Linked DNA regions of Homo sapiens. The protein of the gene in region 1 purifies or fractionates together with the protein of each later gene. This does not show direct contact. Each region holds a gene or a part of one and is shown in the gene's direction. Other genes may lie near its edges.

What was found.
Region 2: the proteins of CEP104 (region 1) and ARMC9 purify together in Homo sapiens (co-immunoprecipitation; one large-scale study listed by IntAct). This does not show direct contact.
Region 3: the proteins of CEP104 (region 1) and CSPP1 purify together in Homo sapiens (co-immunoprecipitation; one large-scale study listed by IntAct). This does not show direct contact.
Region 4: the proteins of CEP104 (region 1) and CCDC66 purify together in Homo sapiens (co-immunoprecipitation; one large-scale study listed by IntAct). This does not show direct contact.

What each region holds. Positions count from the first base shown.
Region 1 is NC_000001.11:3,829,587-3,833,343, reverse strand, and holds part of CEP104 (centrosomal protein of 104 kDa), read left to right. Parts: intron 1-2,121; coding exon 2,122-2,298; intron 2,299-3,346; coding exon 3,347-3,553; intron 3,554-3,757. UniProt on the Homo sapiens protein: Required for ciliogenesis and for structural integrity at the ciliary tip.
Region 2 is NC_000002.12:231,201,631-231,205,130, forward strand, and holds part of ARMC9 (lisH domain-containing protein ARMC9), read left to right. Parts: intron 1-3,500. UniProt on the Homo sapiens protein: Involved in ciliogenesis. It is required for appropriate acetylation and polyglutamylation of ciliary microtubules, and regulation of cilium length. Acts as a positive regulator of hedgehog (Hh)signaling.
Region 3 is NC_000008.11:67,067,392-67,070,891, forward strand, and holds part of CSPP1 (centrosome and spindle pole-associated protein 1), read left to right. Parts: intron 1-708; exon of another isoform or gene 709-1,413; coding exon of another isoform or gene 1,414-1,466; intron 1,467-3,500. UniProt on the Homo sapiens protein: May play a role in cell-cycle-dependent microtubule organization.
Region 4 is NC_000003.12:56,619,256-56,622,337, forward strand, and holds the end of CCDC66 (coiled-coil domain-containing protein 66), read left to right. Parts: intron 1-15; coding exon 16-272; intron 273-521; coding exon 522-646; intron 647-876; exon of another isoform or gene 877-2,276; coding exon 2,277-2,363; 3' UTR 2,364-2,582; downstream 2,583-3,082. UniProt on the Homo sapiens protein: Microtubule-binding protein required for ciliogenesis. May function in ciliogenesis by mediating the transport of proteins like BBS4 to the cilium, but also through the organization of the centriolar satellites.

The sequences.
Region 1 (3,757 bases):
ATTACGTTAAGTTTTACACAAAATTTTGTGATGTGCAGATCCTTCTTAAAAAAGAATCCAGGCCAGACTGGGCACGGTGGCTCACACCTGTAATCCCAGCACTTTGGGAGGCTCAGGCAGGTGGATCACAAGGTTAGGAGATCGAGACTATCCTAGCCAACCTGGTGAAACCCCTTCTGTACTAAAAATCCAAAAATTAGCCGGGTGTGGTGGTGCGTGCCTGTCGTCCCAGCTACTTGGGAGGCTGAGGCAGGAGAATCGAACCCGGGAGGCAGAGTTTTCAGTGAGCCGAGATCACGCCACTGCACTCCAGCCTGGCAACAGAGTGAGACTCCATCTTAAAAAAAAAAAAAAAAGAATCCAGGCCAGGCGGGGTGGCTCACGCCCATAATCCCAGCACTTTGGGAGACCAAGGCAGGCAGATCATTTGGGCCCAGGAGTTTGAGACCAGCCTGGCCAACATAGTGAGACTCTATCTCTGCAAAAAATACAAAAATTAGCCGGGCATGCTGATACACCCCTGTAGTCCCAGCTACTTGGAAGGCCGAGGCGAGAGGCTTGAGCCCAGGTGGTTGAGGCTGCAGTGAGCCGTGATCTCGCCACTGTACTCTAGCCTGGGTGACAGAGAAAGACAGTGTCTCAAAAAGAAGAATCCAAAGGGGTCATTTCTCCAAAATATGAGGAACCACAGATCTAGTTTCATTTAATAAACCTAAATTTTCAGAGTAAATAAGGAAAAGGAATGCTAATAAAAAGGTAAGAAGAAATGCTGTCATGCTAATGTGCTACACTACACTCCTGGTTATGACCTACACTACACTCCTGGTCACGACCTACACTACACTCCTGGTCACGACCTACGCTACACTCCTGGTCACGACCTACGCTACACTCCTGGTCACGACCTACGCTACACTCCTGGTCAGGACCTACGCTACACTCCTGGTCACGACCTACGCTACACTCCTGGTTACGACCTAATGTGCTACACTACACTCCTGGTTACGACCTACACTACACTCCTGGTTACGACCTACAATACACTCCTGGTTACAATACACTCCTGGTTACAATACACTCCTGGTTACAATACACTCCTGGTTACGACCTAATGTGCTACAATACACTCCTGGTTATGACAGCTAGAATTTGGGGGTGAGGAGGGTTCATCTTTCAAAAGATATGTTGCAAATGAGCACATGTTATTGCTTCATTTAATTATTTTTAAGCCACATTAATTTCTGAGCAGTTTGGTGGTGCTCAAATGTTCTCTCTATGTGAGACAACCTTAAGGCAATCTATCGAGGGTTACAATTGTGCACCAGTGTGCCGGTTAGTGGACGAAATACACACTCAACAGCATCTGTTTGTAGTTAAGGAGTTTACTGTCCAAACTTCCCTGGAGAATGCTCTTCTTCTCTTAGCTTTTAGATTTGTACAGAGTCACTCACAGGCCCAAATCCAGAGTGAGTCAGGCCAGCACGATAAGAGATTATTTTAGGTGATAAGACCTGCAGACCTATTGGAAACAGGTTTATTTCTGATTGTAACTTAATGATTCAACATCTTATTTTTTTCTCTATATCCGGTTAATTAAGTGATAAATATCTTAATTACGTAAAGACTTGTTTGTTTAGAGACATTCAAATATGTAATGGTACTTACATTTTTTCCATCTTAACCCACTGGTGACCGTATCACTGCAGAATCATACACTCTTGGCTGACATTTAATAAATACTAAAATAACGGTGATTCTAGCAGCAGCTCTAATTTCTTTTAGAATTTTAGAAATGAGAAAACCTTTTCCTTGAAGCTGAGAATACTGAGAACAGAAACCTTCAAGTTTTCAATTACGCTTCTGAAAAGCTTTCAGTAGACATAAAATCGTTTTATTCTTCATGATTTTATTTCCTGTGGCTCAGATTTTCATTTCTAATGGTTGTTACGCTTTAAATAGAAATACAAGCTTACGGATCAGTGCTCTCATTGCTCCTTGTCACTATCAATCTGTATTTCCCTGTTTTTCCCTTCAGTGTTTAGTTTAAGATCATGCTGAATTGTACTAAACTGCCTCCAGCATTTTCCAGTAAAAATTAACAAATTACCTTGGCTTTCATAGGAAATGGCCTTGTTTAAAGAAGTTAAGTCTCTCCAAATTATTCCATCCTACCTGGTGCAGCCATTGAAAGCAAACTCTTCAGTTCACCTGGCAATGAGTCAGATGGGCCTCCTGGCCCGGCTGCTGAAAGACCTGGGCACTGGCAGCTCGGGCTTCACCATTGACAACGTGATGAAGGTAAGCAGACCTCGCGTGTGACACACCACGCGGCCCAGCACTCACCACAGTGCCTGGAGCGTGGCGAGGGTCTCATCGGCATTTGTTGAAGGAATGACTGAGGCAGTGATTTCAGAAAAATAGCCAGTGTTTCATCCAACAAATGGGGGCCCCCACATGCGTCCTGCTGTCTAATCCTACTCGGTGGTGCATGGTGTGTGCAGATCTTTATCTGTGGAGAGAAACAAATCATAAAAAATATTTCTTTGTCTTTTTTTTTTTTTTTTTTTGAGATGGAGTCTCGTTCTGTCGCCCAGGCTGGAGGTGCAGTGGTGCCATCTCGGCTCACTGCAAGCCCTGCCTCCTGGGTTCATGCCATTCTCCTGCCTCAGCCTCCCAAGTAGCTGGTACTACAGGATGCCCACCACCATGCCCGGCTAATTTTTTCGTGTATTTTAGTAGAGACGGGGTTTCACTGTGTTAGCCAGGATGGTCTCGATCTCCTGACCTCGTGATCCGCCCGCCTCAGCCTCCCAAAGTGCTGGGATTACAGGCGTGAGCCACTGCGCCCGGCCTGTCTTTAAGAGACAATAACAGCAGTGTGATGGAGAATATCAGGTACAGGTTGAAGCCCCTTATCTGGAATGCTTAAGACCAGAAGTGTTTAGGATTTCAGATTGTTTTCGGATTCTGGAATACTTCCATTATACTTACTGGTTTGGATCCCAAATCCAAAAACCTGAAATCTGCACATCGGCTACGCAGGAGCGCACACCTCCAAGGAGGATGAGAAACTGTGGGCCCCCGAGACGCACAGCAGGGATGAAATTGCACTATAGCCACAGCGTTCTGTTTCTTAAAAAAGATCCAAAACAAGCGTGATGAAAGTATAACACGGCTTACGATGAGACGGTAGATCCGTGAGGTTTTATGTTTGAAGTATTTCATAATACTTAATACGGATGTTTTCTCTTTTATTTTTCACATGTTTATAATGTACCTTTTTTGTAAGCTGGAAGAAATTAGTTTTATTTTAAGAATGAGTAACAAGAGCCCCTCCCAACTTTAGTTTTCAGTGAGTGCCCTGGAGCATAGAGTGTATGAGGTCCGCGAGACGGCGGTTCGAATTATTTTGGACATGTACAGACAGCACCAGGCTTCCATCCTGGAGTACCTTCCTCCAGACGACAGCAACACACGCAGGAACATTCTCTACAAAACAATTTTTGAGGGATTTGCTAAAATAGATGGCAGAGCTACAGATGCTGAGATGAGGGTGAGTTAACTTTGGTGAAGTTGTGATGTCATCCTGTGTTGAAGAAGTTACTCAGTTACTCGGTACGTAAATAAGTAAATATGTCATTTGAAGGAGCCACATGTATGGGAAGCCCCGGCGTCCTGGCTAAGAAAGAACACAGGTTCCCGCATTCAGATCCCGGCTGCTCCACTTTCTGCCAGTGAGACCCTTAGGTTCCCAGGC
Region 2 (3,500 bases), on another chromosome or scaffold:
AGACCCCACTGCTTCCTCACTGCTCTGCAGCCGCCTTATGTGTGTTCCCCTCCCCCATTCTTAACCTGATTAGTTCCAGTGTCCCATCGTGGTTGTACTGTTTTCCCTTTCCTCTCTCTTCTAGAAGAACCTCTCACATTGGTTAACCTAACTCAGATAGCTGAAAGTGCCTGGAGAAGAGCTGCAAAACTGTGCAGACTGATTCCATTTTAGATTCAAGTGCAGAGATCTTAAATGGACTATAATACCAGCAACCCTGCCATGTTGCTGTAGTCGCTTTGGTTCCCACCCTCCCTTCCGTTCCCACTCTCCCTTCTCTTCGAACTGTCACCATGCTTCTTACTTGCAGCCGATGACCTTTTTTCTTTCTTTCTTTTTTTTTTTTTTTTGACAGAGTCTCACTCTGTTGCCCAGGATGGAGTGCAATGGCACGATCTCGGCTCATTGCAACCTCCACTTCCTGGGTTCAAGCGATTCTCCTGCCTCAGCTTCCAGAGTAGCTGGGATTACAGGTGCCTGCCACCACACCCGGCTAATTTTTGTATTTTTAGTAGAGATGGGGTTTTACCATGCTGGTCAGGCTGGTCTTGAACTCCCAGCATCAGGCGATCTGCCTGCCTTGGCCTCCCAAAGTGCTGGGATTACAGGCGTGAGCCACCGTGCCCAGCTGATCTTGTTTCTTGTTTCACTTTTTTTTTTTTTTTTTTTTTGAGACAGGGTCTTACTTTGTCACCTAGGCTGGAGTGCCATGGCGTGATCCCGGCTCACTACAGCCTTGACCTTCCTGGTTCAAGTGATCCTCCTGTCTCATCCTCCCCAGTAGCTGGGATTACAGGCACACACCACCACACCCAGCTAATTTTTGTATTTCTGTAGAGATGAGGTTTCACCACGTTGCCCAGGCTGGTCTCGAACTCATGAGCTCAAGTGATCTGCCTGCCTTGGTGTCCCAAAGTGCCAAGATTACAGGTGTGAGCCACTGCACCCAGCCTGTTTCACTTCTAATCACTAAATCTGTGTCTTTGCTCAGCACCCATATTCTCTGCTATCCCTCTGAATGCCGTTCCTGCTTCTCCCTTAAACTCCAGGCTCATATATCTGTAAGAATTAAAGAAAGAGGAGAGAAACACGAAGGGTGACTTGACAGTCAACAGGTTTGTTTCCTGGGTAACGGCCAAACTTCACCCTCTTACAATGGGCCTCAGTATAACAGTGGGCCTTAATAAGGACATTCTGTTCCCTTCAGGTGCACTAAGGGAAGCTAAAAGCAGACTTGGGGGGTATGCCTGCAGCTGCAGAAAGTTGTATAGGAACAGACACACAACTCTCCCTCCCAGATAAGCACAACAGAGAGACACAGAAACAGTTCAAGCCTTTGATAAACTCTCCCACCCTGAATCCTTAAAAACTCTTAGTCTGTAGGAGAGTGTGGCTCTGACCTAACTCGGTCGGAAGTCCCTCCCAGGTTTGAAATAAACCTGTTGACTGTCGAGCCACCCTTCGTGTTTCTCTCCTCTCTCCTCTTTCTTTGGTTCTTACAATACCCACTGACCATTTCGGAACCTCCACTGGAATGTCTAACAGGCAGCTCAGACTTATAGCCAAAACAGAGCTCTTGGTTTGACCTCAAAACAGTCCTTCCCCAGGTTTTCGTTGACTCAGCAAATCACATACTCTTCGGCCAGCTGCTCAGATCCCAGGGTTCTTCCTTCCCTTCTTCCCCTCATGTCCCACAACTAACTGGTCTGCAGATTGTGCCTCTTCTGCCTTTTCCATCTGGACTCACAGCGCTCATGGCCCCTCTTGCTTATCCAAATGATGCTCATGGCTGGCGTGGCCTGAGCAGTACTCATCTCCCTCTTCCCACTCCCCTCCAGTCTTCTCTGTAGAGCAGGCAACATGCATATTAAAAAATGGACATCAGCAGCCGGGCGTGGTGGCTCACCCCTGTAATCCCAGCACTTTGGGAGGCAGAGGAGGGAGGATTGAGCCCAGGAGTTCAAGACCAGCCTGAGCAATGGTGAAATCCTGTCTCTGAAAAAACCAAGGCTGGGCGTGGTGGCTCATGCCTGTAATCCCAGCACTTTGGGAGGCCGAGGCAGGTGGATCACCTGAGGTCAGGAGTTCGAGACCAGCCTGGCCAACGTGGTAAAACCCCGTCTCTACTAAAAATACAAAAATTAGCTAGGCATGGTGGCGGGTGCCTGTAATCCCAGCTACTCGGGAGGCTGAAGCAGGAGAATTGCTGGAACCCCGGAGGTGGAGGTTGCAGTGAGCCAAGATTGTGCCATTCTACTCCAGCCCAAGCAACAACAGCGAGACTCTGTCTCAAAAACAAACAAACAAAAAAAAACCTCACCAAAAACCAAACAAATGAAAAAACCAGAAAACAAAAGACTTGGGGCATAGTGGCACACTCTGTAGGCCCAGCTACTCAGGAGGCTGAGGTGGGAGGACTGCTTGAGTCCAGGAGTTTGAGGCTGCAGTGAGCTATGATCATGTCACTGCACTCTAGCCTGGGCAACAGAGGGAAACTCTGTCTCAGGAAAAAAAAAAAAAAAAAAAAAGGACATCAGTGGTGTCAGTCCCCTCCTCCATACTCTCTCTGAGCCTCCTGTTACTGTCAGCCTAATGTCCAAGCCACTTACCAGCTCTGTAAGGCCCACCTGACCTGGCCCCGGCCCCCCATTGCCTGCTGCTGTCTGCCTCACCCCTAGCTACATCCCAATACCCCAAGACTGCAGAGCTCTTCAGCCTGAGGCCTGTGCACTAACAAAGCCATCTTCCCCAGATCCAGGTGCTCAATCTTTGCTGAAATGTCACATTCCCAGTGAGGCCATCAACCACTCTATCTAAAATAACCCCATACCCGTCTCCTTCAGGTTCTGTCCCTTTCCTTGCGCTGTTTTCTTCATGTCTGGAATCAATTTCCACTCCGTCCATGTTTTTGAGCCTGTACTGTGTGCCAGGCACTGGTCTAGGCACAGGGGAACACCTGTCAGGTGCTGTTGAGAAAAATCAAGCAGTACAAAGGGCTGAGAAGTGATGGGCCGACCTCTTAGAAAGGGTGGTCAGGGCAAGACTCTCTGAGGAGGTGACAGTTAGGCAGAGACCTGAATGAGACGTATCTGAAGGAAGGGCAGTGAGCCAGAGTTCACGAGGGCAGGCGTGTGCTTTGGGTGTTCAGTGGGTGTCCACAGGAACCACACAGTGGCCAGTGTGGCTCAGGTTTACAGAACAAATGGGAGTGTGTCAGAGGCCAAGTTGTCTAGGGCTTTGGGAGTTGAGCCTAAGGAGCCTGGCCTTCATCTGGAGGGCGCTGGAACCACAGGAGGGTCCCAAGCAGGAGGGGAATGCTCACTTGTTAAAAGTGTAGAAATTGGATTGAAGTGGAGAGAAAGGAGGTGGGGAGGCAGTGGCAGAAAAATGTAAGGTTACAGACTCAGAAGAGATCTGACTGAGTGTGGTGGCTCACGCCTATAATCCCAGCATTTTGGGAG
Region 3 (3,500 bases), on another chromosome or scaffold:
GTATCAATTATTGATTATTTAAATCTCAGCATACTTTACGTTTGCAGGCTCTGTTTTTTTTGTTTGTTTGTTTGTTTGTTTTGGTTTTTGAGACAAGAGTCTCGCTCTGTCACCTAGGCTGGAGTGCAGTGGCACGATCTCAGCTCACTGCAAGCTCTGCCTCCCAGGTTCACTCCATTCTCCTGCCTCAGCCTTCTGAGTAGCTGGAACTACAGGCGCCTGCCACCAAGCCTGGCTAATTTTTTGTACTTTTAGTAGAGACGGGGTTTCACCGTGTTAGCCAGGATGGTCTTGATCTCCTGACCTCGTGATCCGCCCGCCTCGGCCTCCCAAAGTGTTGGGATTACAGGTGTGAGCCACAACGCGCGGCTGCAGGCTCTGTTTTTAAGAGGTAAATCTTCATATATGCAAAGACTGTAAAGATACAACCATAAACAATAAAAGAATTGATCTGTTGATTTCTTTTTTTTTTTTTTTTGACAGAGTATTGCTCTGTCATCGAGGCTGTAGTACAGTGGCGTGATCTGGGCTCACTACAGCCTCTGCTTCCTGGGTTCAAGCAATTCTCCTGCCTCAGCCTCCTGAGTAGCTGGGACTACAGAGGTGTGCCACCATGCCTGGCTAATTTTTGTATTTTTAGTGGAGATGGGTTTTGCTGTGTTAGCCAGACTGGTCTCAAACTCCTAACCTCAGGTGATCCACTCTCCTTGGCTTCCCACAGTGCTGGGATTACAGGCATGGGCCACTGCGCCTGGCCTGATCTGTTGATTTCTAAGTGTTAGGTTCTCTGTCATAATTTTTATATGCATTATTTTCTTTTTTCTTCATAATATACTAGAATAAATGATATTTCTGTTTTATAGATTAGGCATAGAGCAGTTAAGGAACATGCTTGAGGTCATTCATGTTGAGATCAATAAGTGATAGAAGTATATTTCAAACTCAGTTCTTTCAATTAAACTATTTTCCTGAAAACTGTTTATCATCTACATACTATGTACACAGCTACTGGAGAAATAATACTTGGCCATGATGTCTTGAAAAAAGTTGTGAGTGACTTTATATTGTAGAGTGTCATATATAAATAATCTCATTTAGGTTTCTTTCAGCTGATTTATTTTTGGCAACTTAATCCTTAAATTATAAACTTTCTTACTCTATATTGTACCTATGCCATATTTATTAACCCAGTCTCTGTGATTCACCAAGTAATTCTTGAATAATTGTGTAGTTGAAATATGTTTTCTGTAAGTTACCACATGCTTTTAGGAGTGAGAAAAAGAAAAGTGGCCGTGATATCTAGAAACTGGTATTGCTAGAAACTAGCCTGGCATTCACAGTAACTTTGTGTTTTTCTGTTGAAGATAAACTATTGTACAGAATGTCAACATCAGATAAGGCCGCTCTGTGTCTATGATGGATCAAGACAAAAACATTCCATCAGTGTCTCCAAACACAGACAAAACGTAAATATTGTCCAAGAACCGAGATACCAAACATTCCCTTTCCCAGCTGATGTGAATGACTACTGCTTGTTTACCAGTTACAGCATTAGCCTCCCCCTATATTTTAGATTTATTGAGTGGTACCATCATAGAATTAACCCCACTTCTAACAGTGTTCAATCCTGAGCAAAGCTCCACTTCCTCAAATTAAGCCTTCCCCCAAATCACCCAACACATATAAGTCTTTTCCAATACCCTCTTACCACGATACCACAGGGTTCCCCATGGTGTGTGTTCTCCGTGCATTCCTTAATGCAATGAGTAGTACATCCAACTTAACTGTGGTAGTTTTCCTGGTGTTCTTTGGCTGGAGATCATTACCAGGAGAAAGCTCATTAGTGTCTTTGACTCTTTAATATTAAAGTCATTATAATCTAATCAGATTAGATACAGGAAAAATTTAGAAATGATTAGAAATGTACTTATATCTCGGATAAATCTTATGTTTTAGTTATGGCATATGCTATATTTACTATGGTTGTTTAAAAGTATGTTTTATTTGTACTTTTTGTACTTTTGATTACTGTAAGTTAAAATCAGTTCTATAATTTATAATGTTAAATAATTACAGTAAAGAGAAAGATAAGCATCTATAAATTCAAGAGGGAGATCTTTCAAAGCCTGGTTAGAACAACATGTAAATGAACATGTTAAATTAATAATTGTTATTAGGTGGTATGGAAACCTTAGTTCCATGTGAAGGTGGCATGTTACTGTTTTTTTTTTCTTTTTAGATAAATGACATTTCTTTTTTTTCTTTTCTTTCTTTTTTTTTTTTTTGAGATGGAGTCTCACTCTGTTGCCCAGACTGGAGTGCAGTGGCATGATCTCGGCTCACTGCAACTTCCACCTGCCTGGTTCAAGCGATTCTCCTGCCTCAGTGTCCCCCGGTAGTTGGGATTACAGGTATATACCACCATGCCTGGCTAATTTTTGTATTTTTAGTAGAGACGGGGTTTCGCCATATTGGCCAGGCTGGTCTCGAACTCCTGACCTCAGGTGATCCACCTGCCTCACACTCCCAAAGTGCTGGGATTACAGGCGTGAGCCACCGCCCCCAACCTAGATAAATGACATTTCTGTTTAAATTCTGTGCAAAATTCTATAGCAAAATATATGCGTTATCTCATCATTTTATTCCTATCAGACATAGAATATTTAGGGAAGATTAGAGGATTTTGAGGATTGATTGTTTTAAACATGAAAACTTGTTTGCTGTTGAGTTCAGAATTTTTACTAGGAAAAATCTTTCGTGACTATTAGCAAATTAAAAATGGCTGAAATAAGTCGGGACGGTGGCTCACACCTGTAATCCCAGCACTTTGGGAGGCCGAGGCAGGCGGATCACGAGGTCAGGAGATTGAGACCATCCTGGCTAACACAGTGAAACCCTGTCTCTACTAATAATACAAAAAAATTAGCTGGGCATGGTGGTGGGCACCTGTAATCTCAGCTACTCGGGAGGCTGAGGCAGGAGAATGGCATGACCCCGGGAGGTGGAGCTTGCAGTGAGCCGAGATCGCGCCACTGCACTCCAGCCTAGGTGACAGAGCGAGACTCCATCTCAAAAAAAAAAAAAAAAAGCTGAAATAAGCTGAGTGTGGTTGCTGGCAGTTATAATCCCAGTGATTCTGGTGGCCAACATGGAGGATCACTTGAGCTTAGCAGTTCAAAGTTACAATGAACTATGATCGTGCCACTGCACACTAGCCTGGGCAGCAGAGCGAGACCTCATCTCTAAAAAACAAAAAACAACAAAAGAAATTGGCCAGAATTTATCAACTTTTGTTGATTTGAAGTATATTTTGCTAAAACTATATATGTAAATATATATATATATATATATTTCTATTTTTAGTGTTTTTTTTTGAGATGGGGTCTTGCTCTGTTGCCCAGGCTGGAGTACAGTGGCATGCTCATAAGCTCACTGTAGCCTTGATCTCCTGGGCTCAAGTGATCCAATCCTCCTGCCTCAGCTTCCCCAATAGCTGGGAC
Region 4 (3,082 bases), on another chromosome or scaffold:
TTTTTTTTTAAATAGGTCTCCATCATCACCAGTTCCAGTAGTGAAAAACAGAACCCAACAAACTCAAAATACATTACATTTACCACTAAAAAACAGTAGCTATGAGAGAGAGAATTTGATCTCAGGAAGTAATCAAACAGAATTATCATCTGGGATTTCTGAATCATCCCATTTTATTCCGTATGTTCGAACAAATGAGATCTATTACCTTGATCCCGATGCACCATTGTCTGGGCCTTCAACCCAGGACCCTCAGTACCAAAATTCACAAGGTAAGTAAATATTAAGCATTCTAACTGTAAAAATTGAAGACCCATGTAAACCCCGTCAACAACTTTAAATTCCAAATTAGTAATTCCTGCACTTAGTTCTATAAAGTTTCTTGAATATGTCTTAAATTTTTCTTAGTACTTTCCTAGGATACATACTTATTATAATGACTCCTGACAATATTATATAGCACAGGGCTATGTCATTTTACTAATGTAATTGACTGACTTGTTACTTTCATCTGGCTTTAGACTGTGGCCAAAAACGACAGCTATTTGATTCTGACTGTGTCAGGGATCCACTTCTTAATCCTAACATGGTGAAAAATAGGGATCGACAGCAAGCAATCCTTAAGGGACTTTCAGAACTGAGACAGGTATGAGCTTTTTCAAGTGTAGATATGTCTGTTCTTTATGTGGCGTGGGCGGTTGGGGGAACCTGTTGAACGGTTTGTTTTAAGTTACTTCGGTGCATCCCAGGATTTAACAAAAATATTTCAGTTCCTGTATGTTTGTTAGACACAAATAAAATGGGACTTTCCTAAGACTTGCTTTTACACTGCCGTCTTTGAGTAGTTCTTTCCAGTACGAAATCATCAGACAGTTCTAAAATTAAGACAAGTTTATTGAGTAAAAAAATGCATACATTGGAACGGCAAAACATCAATAAGGCCCTAAAACAAAAAATACAGTTATGCTTTAACAAATTCTTAGCAATGTGGCCCACGCTTTTTAAAAAATTGACGTGTTGGCAGTGTTTGTTAGAACATTGACGTACATCCCAAATAGTAATAAATTCAGTATGAAATTATACGCATAACCTTACTCACCATACTACTTTTTCTCCCAAACTATTGTGACTTCTTTTTGCTCTCTGATTAAAACAAACAGGTAACATCCTTACACCTTTGCTCCATCCCTTGGGCTTTAAAAAGAATGGCTGTAGTTAGTTTTGATTCACTATATACTCTCTGTACTTGAGGAAGAGTAAGCTGTGTTTAAAAGTGCCCTTTTCCATGTCGTCATGTACCAATACCCTCTGCATTTCAAAATGTTGACTCAGATGTTTTTCCCTCTACAGAACTAGAAAATTGTCCCCCCACTTTGGTCTATTTACTCATTTGAAGACAAACAGGGTTACTAAGAGTTTTACATAAGTTATTTCTTTAGAGTGACGAAGTGTTAGTTTACTTCTTGCTTAGTGGAGACAAAAATTGTGAGATAAAGAGGAAGGAATAGGATGTACACATTTACCCATCAATATAGCACCCAGTGTTATTTCAGCAGGACCCTTCTGTTAGCATCTAAGGTAAGGTTAGGACAGTCAAGATAAAATACTGGATGTTGGCCAGGAGCAGTGGCTCAAGCCTGTAATCCCAGCACTTTGGGAGGCTGAGGCAGGCAGATCATGAGGTCAGGAGATCAAGACCATCCTGGCTAACACAGTGAAACCCTGTCTCTACTAAAAATACAAAAAGTTAGTTAGTTAGTTAGCCAGGCGTGGTGGTGGGTGCCTGTAGTCCCAGCCATTCGGGAGGTTGAGGCAGGAGAATGGTGTGAACCTGGGAGGCAGAGCTTGCAGTGAGATTGCACCACTGTACTCCAGCTTGGGCGACAGAGCGAGACTCCATCTCCAAAAAAAAACAAAACAACAACAACAAAAAAAAAACACTGTATGTTAAGGGAGACTCCTTCAGTATCTAAGAGCACTTGGGGGTGGACTGGGGGAGAAGGGATGACTTCATTTACCCCCATAGTTATGGAGTCTTGAGTTCTAAGAAAATTTTCATCCCTATTGATTTTTATGCTAAAAACAGAATCTTACAAATGTGATAGCTATATATCCAAATGAGGTGGTCTAGTACAAGCATTTCTGAAAAAATTTTTGAATGACAAAATTTTATCCTAAGCGATATGTTTTCCAAGTGAATATAATTCTAGTTTAACACAACATTGCAAGTCAGGTGTGCACATTTTACTAACAAACATATATCAATGTGATTTCAGGGCCTTCTCCAGAAGCAAAAGGAGTTGGAAAGTAGTCTCCTGCCTTTAGCTGAAAATCAAGAAGAGAGTTTTGGTTCTTCATTTTAAATGTAGAAAATCAAATCCTTCACATTTGATTTGTGTCTTCCAAATTATAAAATGTGCTCACTGGCTCAACTGTATTTTTCAAATAGCCTAGATTTACTTATTTTTTTAAATGCTCATTAAAAACTTGTATACTATGTAGTAAAATGCTGTACTTGTTCTATACAATAAAACAGATACTTCTTTTGTAAAAGCTTAGTAGTAAAAAAAAAAAAAAAAAAACCGGTTCTTCTGCTCTGTCACCACCTGGGTATTGAAGCCCTATAAAAACACTTTCTACTTACCTTAATATAGTCTGGCGTTGCTGGGACCTCACAGTGTTCTTTCACACTTTTTATGTAACTTAGGAACTGAAATACCACTCATGCATTTGTTCTAAAGTGCCAAAGTTCTGTCTAACTTATTAACACGTCTAGACCCATAACTCCATAACTTTTACTGAAATAACACAAATTCAGTTTAGGCTCCTTCTCTAAATCCTGACATTTATTTGCACTATGACATTTATTTGTAGAAATTGCAATTTTCAAAAACATTTTTAAAAGTTAGCATTAGTAACAAGTTAGTAATTAGTATTAGAGGCAGTAGTTAGGAATAGATACGGGTTTGAAAGCTATCTCCACTGTATCTGTCTAGTATAGCATTAATGTGTTCAACAAATGGTAATTACTACTAAGACCACCTCAAAAATATATTCCCATTATACTTCCATTTTGCTAAAA